Regions from separate parts of the Homo sapiens genome. Here region 2 is linked to region 1. The links come from fine-mapping of genetic effects on gene expression. A gene starts in region 1. The other region holds a variant in brackets. All regions are shown on one strand. Distances are between the middles of the regions.

Region 1 (5,374 bases):
TTTTAAGTAAAGTAAGATCACATCACTTCTCTGCTGGCAACCCTCCTGTGTCTTCCTTTCTCAAAGGTTGACTTTATAAGGTATGAGGGAGTTTTGAAGGAGTGATAGAGCTGCTCTGTATCTTTAGTGTGGCAGTGCTTACATAGCCATGTGCATTTGTCAAAACCCATCATATTATACATGAAAAAGTAAGACTTTAATTTGTGTAAATTATGCCTCAATAAACCTGACTTTAAAGAAAAAAAGTGCTGGGCACGGTAGCTCCCGCCTGTAATCCAGCACTCTGGGAGGCCGAGGCGGGTGGATCACGAGGTCAGGAAATCGAGACCATCCTGGCTAACATGGTGAAACCCCGTTCTCTACTAAAAATGCAAAAACTTAGCCAGGCGTAGTGGCACGTGCCTGTAGTCCCAGCTACTCAGGAGGCAGGAGAATCGCTTGAACCTGGGAGGCGGAGGTTGCAGTGAGCCAAGATCACACCACTGCACTCCAGCCTGGGTGACAGAGCGAGACTCCATCTCAAAAAAAAAGAAGAAAAAAAGTAAGGAGTTCCGGAGTTCCCATTAGTTAATAATGGGATTTTTGGCAGATCACTTCCCCTTTCAGATTAGTAAATATGACCGGAATTGATGATTTTTAAGACCCCTGCCAGTGCCAACATTGTATCATGTAGCATAATAAACCTGATTCTAGTTTGAAAATTTTATTTTGTATTTCTGGGAATATAAGCTTTTCATAAATTAGTCTTGGTTTGTGTTTTTTAATGGGGTTCCTTAAACCAAACTGAAGGGCATACTGTCTTTTTTTTTAATTGTAGTTTTAAGAGTTTGGATAAACTAAAGGAAGCATGGAGATGAACGACAGGCGGAGATAAAAGGAAAGGACAAACAACCTCTTTGTGCCTGTTTTGTCATCCATAAAGTGGGGATCATAATAGAACCTTCCAGGATTACAGGCTCATGCCCATCTCTACTAAAAATACAAAAATTAGCCAGGTACGTGGTGGCGCACACCTGTAGTCCCAGCTACTTGGGAGGCTGAGGCAGGAGAATTGCTTGAACACAGGAGGCGGAGGTTGCAGTTAGCTGAGATCGTGACACTGCACTCCAGCCTGGGTGACAGAGGGAGACTCTGTCTCAATAAAAAAAAAAAAAAAAATTCACGTATCTCCTGATACACCAGGATCCTGCAGTCGGCCAAGGACTGTGAAGAACAGAAAAGAAACCCAAGACTCCATCCCATCTTTAAGAAGTCTTCAGTAGCACCAGAGACAAAAAGGACGGCCATGCGGGCGGATCACGAGGTCAGGAGATCGAGACCATCCTGGCTAACACGGTGAAGCCCCGTCTCTACTAAAAATACAAAAAAGTAGCCGGGCGTGGTGGCAGGCGCTTGTAATCCCAGCTACTCCAGAGGCTGAGGGAGGAGAATGGCGTGAACCCGGGAGGCGGAGCTTGCAGTGAGCTGAGATGGCACCACTGCACTCCAGCCTGGGCAACAGAACGAGACTCTGTCTCAAAAAAAAAAAAACAAAAAGGATGGCCATGGGTGCAACAGGGGCCCTGACTGCGGGTTGTACTGAACGGCAAACATATCGCAGTTCTTGCTTTTAGGGAATAAAGTAGGGAGAGGAAGAGGAGGTAGAGTCTCCAGCAGTGACTTCAACAGCTCGCTGTCTTCACTATCTAGGAAATAGGTGTAAAAACCTGCTCAAAACGAAATAGATTTGTGAAAAAAGGAACTTCAGTGTGAAGAAAATGTCAAGATCAAGGCACCTCGGATATTCAGTCATTGGTCTCATTGGCGATTAGAAATCCTCGTTTGAGGTCGGGCGCAATGGTTCACCCCGTAATCCCAGCAATTTGGGAGGCCGAGGCGGGCGGCTCACTTGAGGTCAGGGGTTCGACACAAGCCTAGCCAACATGGTGAAACCACCTCTCTACTAAAAATACAAAAATTAGCCGGGCGTGGTGGCAGGCGCCTGTAATCCCAGCTACTCGGGAGGCTGAGGCAGGAGAATCACTTGAACCTGGGAGGCTGAGGTTGCAGTGAGCTGAGATCGCACCACCGCATTCCAGCCTAGGCAACAGAGCGAGACTGTCTCGCTCTCAAAAAACAAGAAAGAAAAGAAAAAAAAAGAAAAAGAAATCCCCGTTTGACAGGAAGGTGGCTCATGTCACTAGAGGGAAGGAACTGGTTTATGGGCCTGGATGCCCCCAGTTGAACCGGGGGACATCTTCCTCCTCTGTCCCTCCCGCCTCGCCTTTCGGTGGACACACAGTCCTGTGCCAGACAGCAAACGTCCCAGCAGGGCTCGCAGCGCCCCCTCGGGGCAGAGAGATGCACGCGGGCGACTGTCGCAGTCACCTCGTGGCCACTGCACCAAACGCTCCTCCGAAGCTTCCCTCAGAGACCCTCCCTCAACCGCGAGGCAGTCCTCCCCTCTGCCCTCTGTCCACAACAAAACTGCTCCCCGCCTCTCACTTGAGGGCACCGGGGCCAGCCCCCGAGACGAGAGGTCGGCCGCAGCCCTCCTCCACGGGGCTCACGACCCGGGGGCCTCACGACCCGGGGGCCCCATGCTGCCACCCTTACCCCGGGGCCCCCAACCTCACCCGCCGCCGCCACCCTCGGTCCCGGCCACAGCGGGCGGCTCTGCAGAAGAGCTACGCTCCGTCCAGTCGGACCCCGGACCCTGGCCGGGCATCTCCGCGGCGCCGAGACCGCGAGCCGTGTGCGGGAGCAGCTGTCCCAGCATCCCTCCCCCGACAGCACGCGTGCGTCAGGCTGCTGGTATTCCGGAGAGGCGGCTCGGATGCTGGCTTCTCGCCCCTCCGAAGCCGTTCGGACACTGCCCGAACAGCTTCGGGAGAGCGGGGCGGGCAGATCCGCGACCCCGGAGTTACGGTGGGGGAGGGGCAGGAGCGCTGCGGTCGCTGAGCGTTTGCACGTTTGCACCTCTCTGTGGAAGCAGTGCGTCACAGGAGGGAAATATACATGCTCCCCAAAACAAGAGGTGCCTTCCACTTCAGTATTCCAGATCCTCAGCACATTTGCAAATCGCGAGGGTCACCATACAGGTCAAACGTCTGCACGCAAACCACGGACCGAAGCACGTGGCGCAAGGATGCGGAGCTTTATCTGTTGTCCGTTATTACTCAGGTATCCAAGCTTAGACAGCATCCCAACGGCCGATTTCCATCAACTACTTTTGCGCACGCGCAAATCCTCTCCCTCGCCCCTCCCCTTTTTTCTCAGGACGCGTTTCTCACGGGATTTGGCCCGCGGGCTGCCCCGTAGTAGGAGGTGTGGTAGAACTGGAGGCGTAGAAAGAATGTGGATTGCGATTGGTTCGCACTTCACTTTCCCGGAGCTCAGTGGGCGTCGCGCGAAGGCTAAGGGAGTGTGGCGGGCGGCTCCGGGAGCCAACATGCCTCGGTATGCGCAGCTGGTCATGGGCCCCGCGGGCAGCGGGAAGGTGAGGATCTGCGGGGACAAGGAGAGAAAAGTAGGAGTTCGTGGAAGGCGGGAGATTGGGTCCTGAGGGAGTGAGCCGGCGGGTGTGTGTACTGGGAACCCTGAGACCCCACGCAACTCATTTCTGCTGTCTGGCTTCACGTTCTTTTTTGTTGTTGTTTTGAAAGGGAAATAATGGTAGTTGTTAATATTTATTGTATACTTAAGCCCCAGGCAGCAGATGAAACGCCTCGCTTATTTCTACAACAACCCTGTGAGAGAGATCTCATTTTTCTCATTTTACAGAAAACGAGATACAGAAAGGTTAATTAAGTTCTTTGCCCCGCAAAAAAATATAAATCCAGTTTTGTCTCAACTCCAGAATCCGGCCCTGTCTCGCTCCCAGGAGGGTAAAGTGGGGTCTCATTAATTACTGTTTCTCAGAACTTGGGACATGGACTTTTGGTATTTAAGGTGCTTTTAGGTGGTAGGTGGTACATGGACCCCACATTAAGGAGCATCAGATAATGTGTTAGGGAAATTGTTCCCTTTTCATTTCTCTTTCAGTTCTCAACTTCGCATTTAGGAGAAGTTGTGCTCGGTGCTAGTGTGTATCTTCAGCACTTCTTTAATCCCCAGGTCTTTTCAGAGAGCAGTTCTTAGTCTCAGAGCTTTTAATAGGCACCTGTATTTAGCTAAAAATAGAACATTTAAAGATTTTATATAATTTTATGTCTAATTTCACGTTATGTCAAATATAAGTGGTTTTCAGTTTACAGTAGGGATAAAATTTTTTCTTGTAAACAAATATTAAGGGAATGTTAGGAACATTCAAATACAGTGAGAATGGTGAAGATATGGATCAAATAACATATGTGTGGGAAACATAGCCAGGCGTGGTGGCTCACGTCTGTAATCCTATCACTTTGGGAGATGGAGGTGGACGGATCGCCTGAGCCCAGGAGTTTGGGACCAGCCTTGGCAACACGGCGAAACTCTGTCTCTACAAAAAAATGCAAAAATTAGCCAGGCCTGGTGGCAGGTACCTCTAGTCCCAGCTTCTCGGGAAGCTGAAGTGGGAGGATTACCTGAACCCAGGAGGTTGAGGCTGTGGTGAGTGGTGATCGTGCCACTGCACTCCAGCCTGGGTGACAGAGGTACTGTCGCAAAAAAAAAAAAGAAGAAGTGTGGAAACACTAGAGTCTGTGGAGGTGTTGTGTGGCCTCAGTCTTTAACAAACACATTGTTCTAAGCTGTTGACTTATTCTGGGTAAAAACATGTACATGTAACTAAGATACCTATGGCCTTTAACTTACCCAGAGTCTGTAGTCTTTTGGGGAAGACAAATAGATGACCTGTCAATTAAGATACAGTGTGATGTGGCCAGGTGTGGTGGCTTAAGCCTGTAATCCTCGCACTTTGGGAGGCTGAGGCCAGCAGATCACTTGAGCCCAGGAGTTCAGGGTCAGCCTGGGCACCATGGTGAAGCCCTGTCTCTACCAAAAATACAAAAATTAGCTGGGCATGGTGGCGAGAGCCTATAGTCCCACCTACTCGGGGGGCTAAGGCTGGAGAATCGCTTGAGCCTGGGTCAAAGCTGCAGTGAGCTATGATGGTGCCACTGCACTCCAGCCTGGGTGACAGTGAGACCCTTTGCAAAAAAAAAAAAGATACAGTGTGTGATGTATGGAGAGGGCATTCCAGACAGAGACAACAGTATGTGTAAAGGCACTGAGAGGACAGCATGATGGATGTTTTTTCTATAGTCTATTTTAATTTTTGGGCTGATTGTATTAAACAAGTATCTTTATAAGCTTTTGATGCTTACTATCAGAAACATTCCTTGAGTACGTTCTTTATCCCAGGCACTGTTTTGGGCCCTGGGGGTTGTATGGGGAAAAAAACATGCACACACAA
Region 2 (5,374 bases), 49 kb after region 1:
CTGCCTCAGCCTCCCAAAGTGCTGGGATTAGAGGTGTGAGCCACCGTGTCCAGCCCTTCATTCTATTTTATAGCTGAATAACATTCCCTTGTAGGGACAGACCACATTTTGCTTCTCCATCTGTTCATGGACACTTGGGTTGTTTCCATCTTCCGTGAAGAATGCTGCAATGAACATGGTTATACAAGCTGAGTTCCTGCTTTCAGAGTGCTTTTAAAAAGTCACCCATTTGCTATTTTATCACAAATCCCCTTGAGATTTATCCCTAAACCATTATTTAAGTCTTTTTACTTGTCTGACTATCTCATAAATAAAAATGACCATCTGGACATCTTAGAACCTTCTTTACTGAAAAGAGGGAAAATTGGTTGGGATGCTGGTGGTATTTATTCCCTCCAGTTGTTCAGGGAAATTCTTTGTCCTGAAGTTATTTTTCCACTGAAAGGAAACCTATCACTGCCAGGAGACACTTAAGGGATGTTAAGTAATGTTTCCCTTAGAGCAATTTATAAGTGTTATGTTTTTCCCCTTGTACAAAAGACAGATCTAAGAAAAATGTCTGATTGCAGCTGGGAAAAATTTTCATTCTTAGGAAGCTGCTGGACATTTAGAGATGAACTTAAGTGGAGCAGAACATTTATATTTATAAGTTGTTCCTCCAATGTATTTGACCCAACACTCCACGGTATCCACATCATTCTACATCTGTTACGCAGCTGACCTAACGATTCACAGCCAATTACCATCCCAGGACTTCTGTTTCCTCACATAAAATGAAGATAACCTCTAACACGCCCTCCAGCTCCAAAATTATCCTTTCTGAATATGATTCCATGAGGAAGAGGAGGCCTAGTCTCCTTGGATATATCTCCTGTGTGTCCCAAGTTGTTTTAACACCATACATGTCCTTTGAATATTATTAAAATCAGTATGATCTGGCCAAGCATGGTGGGTCATGTGTGTAATCCCAGCACTTTGGGAGGCCAAGGCGGGTGGATCACTTTGCTGCGGGATAATTAAGGAATTAGAGAGACTGAGGGGTTGAGGAGGAATTATTTAATTATTAAGCTGCACCAACCCAGTCGGATTAACATCCAAAGGACTGGGCCCTGAACAAAGAGTCAAGTTACCTTTTAAGCATTTCGTGGGGCAGGGGCAGATCTGTGCAGGGGGAAGCATATTACAGAAGCAAGAAACAAAGACAGTTATTTAATTGAGACATGCATTACATTATTTCATACTTTTTAAGGAACAACATGTTTTACAACTTGAGATTATCTGTCTAGTGACCTTGTAGCTGCACAGCTAGAGAAACAGGGTCTTCACAATGCTTGGGAAAGGGAGAGATAAGGCTCACTAGCCACAGAAAGACAGGCAGTTAATTTTAAAGGACTCCAGCTCTTTCTCTTCCTCAAGGGGAATTGGGTTTTCTTATATACAACTGAGTTTTTGTTTAAACATTTTTTGATTTATTTTAATTCCTGTTTCAGCTTGAGCTCAGTTCAAGACCAGCCTGGCAACATGGCAAAACCCCTGTCTCTACCAAAAAAAATTAGCCAGGCGTGGTGGCAGGTATCTGTACTCCCAGCTTCTTGGAAGGCTGAGGTGGGATTATCTCTTGAGCCCGAAAGGTAGAGGTTGCAGTGAGCTGTGATTGCACCACTGCACTCCAGCCTGGGTGATAGAGCCAGACCTTGTCTCAAAACAAAACAAAACAAAATCAGTATGATCTGAATTACATCATATTAATGGGACCTAACCGTAGAACCTACCCTCTCTTTGATAAATTGATTTTCAAGATGAATATTTTGAAATTTCCAGATTAGCTGGGCATGGTACCACACACCTGTAGTCCCAAGTACTCAGGAGGCAGAGGTGGAAGGATTGCTTGAGCCCAGGAGGTCAAGGCTGCAGTGAGCTATGATTTCGCCACTGCACTCCAGCCTGGGTGACAGAGAGAGACACAACTCTAAATAAATAAATAAAAATTGGGCACAGTGGCTCACACCTGTAATCCAGCACTTTGTGAGGCCAAGGCAGGAGGACAGCTTGAGCCCAGGAGTTTAAGACCAGCCTGGGCAACATAGCAAGACCCCATCTCCACACACACTCAATTTTTTAAATTAGCTTGGTGTGGTGGTGCATGCCTATAGTCCCAGCTACTTGGGAGGCTGAGGTGGAGGGACCACTTAAGCCTGGGAAGTTGAGGCTACAGTGAGGTATGATTGTGCCACTGCACTCAAGCCTGGGCAACAGAGGGAGATCCTGTCTCAAAAAAAATAAAAAATAAAAAATAAATAAATAAATAAATAAATAAAATTTCCAGAGGAGGTAGGTCCCCCTTTGCCTCTAATTTTTTCTCTATAAATATTTTTGCTTCATCCATTCTTTGTGTGAGTTTATCAGTTTCACAGGTGTGTTTTAGCTCTATTTCTTTGCAGGAATTATCAACTTTTCTTTTTTTTTTTTTTTTTTTTGAGACTGAGTCTCACTCTGCCACCCAGGCTGGAGTGCAGTGGTGCGATCTCAGCTCATTGCAACCTCTGCCTCCCGGGTTCAAGCGATTCTTCTGCTTCAGCCTCCCGAGTAGCTGGGACTACAGGCATGCGCCACCACACCCAACTAATTTTTGTAATTTTAGTAGAGATGGAGTTTCACCATATTGGCCAGGCTGGTCTTGAACTCCTGACCTAGTGATCCACCCACCTTGGCCTCCCAAAGTGCTGGGATTACAGACCTGAGCCACTGTGCCCAGTCTCAACCTTTCTTCTACCAGTTAGCCAGTGATACATTCTCCTTCATTCCCATCAGTATATAAAAATGATATTTCTCCAATCAGAAAACAAAAATCCTCTCTTTCACCCACCTGCTGCCAACCATGTCCTCCTTTGCTTTACAACAGGGCTTCTCCACATTGACACTTTGACATTTTGGACTGGCTACTTAAATATATGAATTAAAAAAATTTTTTTTTTCTTTTTGACAGAATCTCCCTCTGTCACCCTGGCTGGAGTGCCATGGTGTAATCTAGATT[T/C]ACCGAAACCTCCACCTCCGGGTTCAAGTGATTCTCCTGCCTCAGCTTCCCAAGTAGCTGGGATTATAGGTGTGAGCCACCATGCCTGGCATGAATGTAAATTTCTCCTCCACTTTGCCGTGGGGGGCTGTCCTATACATTAAAGAATGTTTAGCAGCATCCCTAGTATCTATCTACCCGATGCCAGAAGCAACACCCACCCCACCTCAGATGTCTCCAGACATTGCCCAATGTCCCCTAGGAATACAGTCACCACCCTGCCTCCACCCCAGTTGAGAACCACTTCTCTGCAGCAAAACTCCTCAAAATAATTGGCCGGGCACAGTGGCTCATGCCTGTAATCCCAGCACTTTGGGAGGCCGAGGCAGGCGGATCACCAGGTCAAGAGTTCGAGACCAGCCTGGCCAGCATGGTGAAACCCCGTCTCTACTAAAAATACAAAAATTAGCCAGCCGGGCAGGTGGCACATGCCTGTAATCCCAGCTACTTGGGAGGCTGAGGCAGGAGAATCACTTGAACCCAGGAGGTGGAGGTTGCAGTGAGCCAAGGTCGTGCCACTGCACTCCAGCCTGGGCGAAAGGGCGAGATCTCGTCTCAAAAAAAAAAAAAAGAATTATTGGCTGGGCAAGGTGGCTCATGCCTGTAATCCCAGCACTGTGGGAGGCCAAGGCAGGCAGATTACCTGAGGTCAAGTGTTCAATACTAGCCTGGCCAACATGGTAAAACCCCTTCTCTACTAAAATACACAAAAATTAGCAGGAGCATGGTGGAGCATGCCTGTAATCCAGCTACTGGGGAGGCTGAGGCAGGAGAATCACTTGAACTTGGGAGGCAGAGGTTGCAGTGAGCCGAGATCATGCCGTTGAACTCTAGCATGGGCAACAGAGCAAGACTCCATCTCAAAATAAAAGAATTATCTATATGCATTGTCTCACATTTGTCTCCTTCTCTTTACCAAAGCGCCACTGAAAATGTTCTTGTTGACATCATCAGTGACTTTCATGTTGCTAAATGCTATGGCTATTTCTCCATAAGATGCAAAAAATTAGCCAGGCATGGTGGTGGGCGCCTGTAGTCCCAGCTACTCAGGAGGCTGAGGCAGGAGAATGGCATGAACCCGGGAGGCGGAGCTTGCAGTGAGATGAGATCACACCACTGCACTCCAGCCTGGGCAACAGAGCGAGACTCCGTCTCAAAAAAAAAAAAAAAAGAAAAGAAAAGAAAAAAGTATAATAGCAAACATTTATATAGTGCTTCTGGAACAGGAATTAAAAGAAATTAAAGAATGTGTAAGCAAAAACTCAGTTGTATGTAAGAAAACCCAATTCCCCCTGAGGAAGAGAAAAAGGTGGAGTCCTTTAAAAATTAACTGCCTGTTTTTCTGTCTGTGGCTAGTGAGCCTTATCTCTCCCTTTCCCAGGCATTGTGAAGACTCTGTTTCTCTAGCTGTGTGGCTGCAAGGTAAGTAGATAGATAAACTCAAGTCGTAAAACATGTTTTTCCTTGAAAAGTAAGAAATGATGTAATGCGGCCGGGCGCGGTGGCTCACGCCTGTAATCCCAGCACTTTGGGAGGCCGAGGCGGGCGGATCACAAGGTCAGGAGATCGAGACCATCCCGGCTAAAACGGTGAAACCCCGTCTCTACTAAAAATACAAAAAATTAGCCGGGCGTAGTGGCGGGCGCCTGTAGTCCCAGCTACTTGGGAGGCTGAGGCAGGAGAATGGCGTGAACCCGGAGGCGGAGCTTGCAGTGAGCCGAGATCCCGCCACTGCACTCCAGCCTGGGCGACAGAGCGAGACTCCGTCTCAAAAAAAAAAAAAAAAGAAATGATGTAATGCATGTCTCAACTGAATAACTGTCTTTGTTTCTCACTTCTGTAATATGCTTCCCCCTGCACAGATCTCCCCCTGCCCCATGAAATGCTTAAAAGGTAACTTGACTCTTTGTTAGGGGCTCAGTCCTTTGGATGTTAATCCGACTGGGTTGGTGCACCTAAATAATTAAATAGTAAGTATCCTCCTCAACCCGTCGGTCTGATTCCTAAATTAGCCCGCTACACTGCAAGGGACCCAGAGATCACCTCCAGCCCCTCTTTTAACTCTTAGTGGGTTTTTGAGCTGGATCGAAAACGAACTGACACCAGGCAGATTAACAAGAGAAAAGTGTACAAACTTTGTTTCACGTGTACGGGGGGGTCTACACAAAAAAAAGAGTGAAGTCTGAAGAAGTGGCCAAATAAGATGCTTTATATGTTTTAGACAAAGAGCAATATACTTGAGAAGAAATGACAGGACAAAGAAAATCTGGCTGGGGCAGTAAATTTTTCAGGGGAGTCACT

What was found.
Region 2: its variant is fine-mapped to the expression of FAM216A in whole blood (TOPMed, PIP 0.91).

What each region holds. Positions count from the first base shown.
Region 1 is chr12:110,466,260-110,471,633 of GRCh38, reverse strand. It overlaps FAM216A (family with sequence similarity 216 member A), which reads right to left and starts at 2,789. Exons shown (of 7, transcript NM_013300.3): 1 at 2,616-2,789. The coding sequence starts at 2,758. GPN3 (GPN-loop GTPase 3) reads left to right here and starts at 3,377. Exons shown (of 8, transcript NM_016301.4): 1 at 3,377-3,478. The coding sequence starts at 3,431. It overlaps LOC124903016 (a long non-coding RNA gene), which reads left to right. Exons shown (of 3, transcript XR_007063459.1): 2 at 818-995; 3 at 1,183-1,345. RefSeq lists enhancers at 2,046-2,215, 3,136-3,265 and a silencer at 2,416-2,725.
Region 2 is chr12:110,417,550-110,422,923 of GRCh38, reverse strand. No RefSeq gene overlaps it. Among named protein-coding and RNA genes, the nearest start is that of ANAPC7, 17 kb to the right of the region's middle. The variant T/C (reference allele first, on the strand shown) is at 3,035.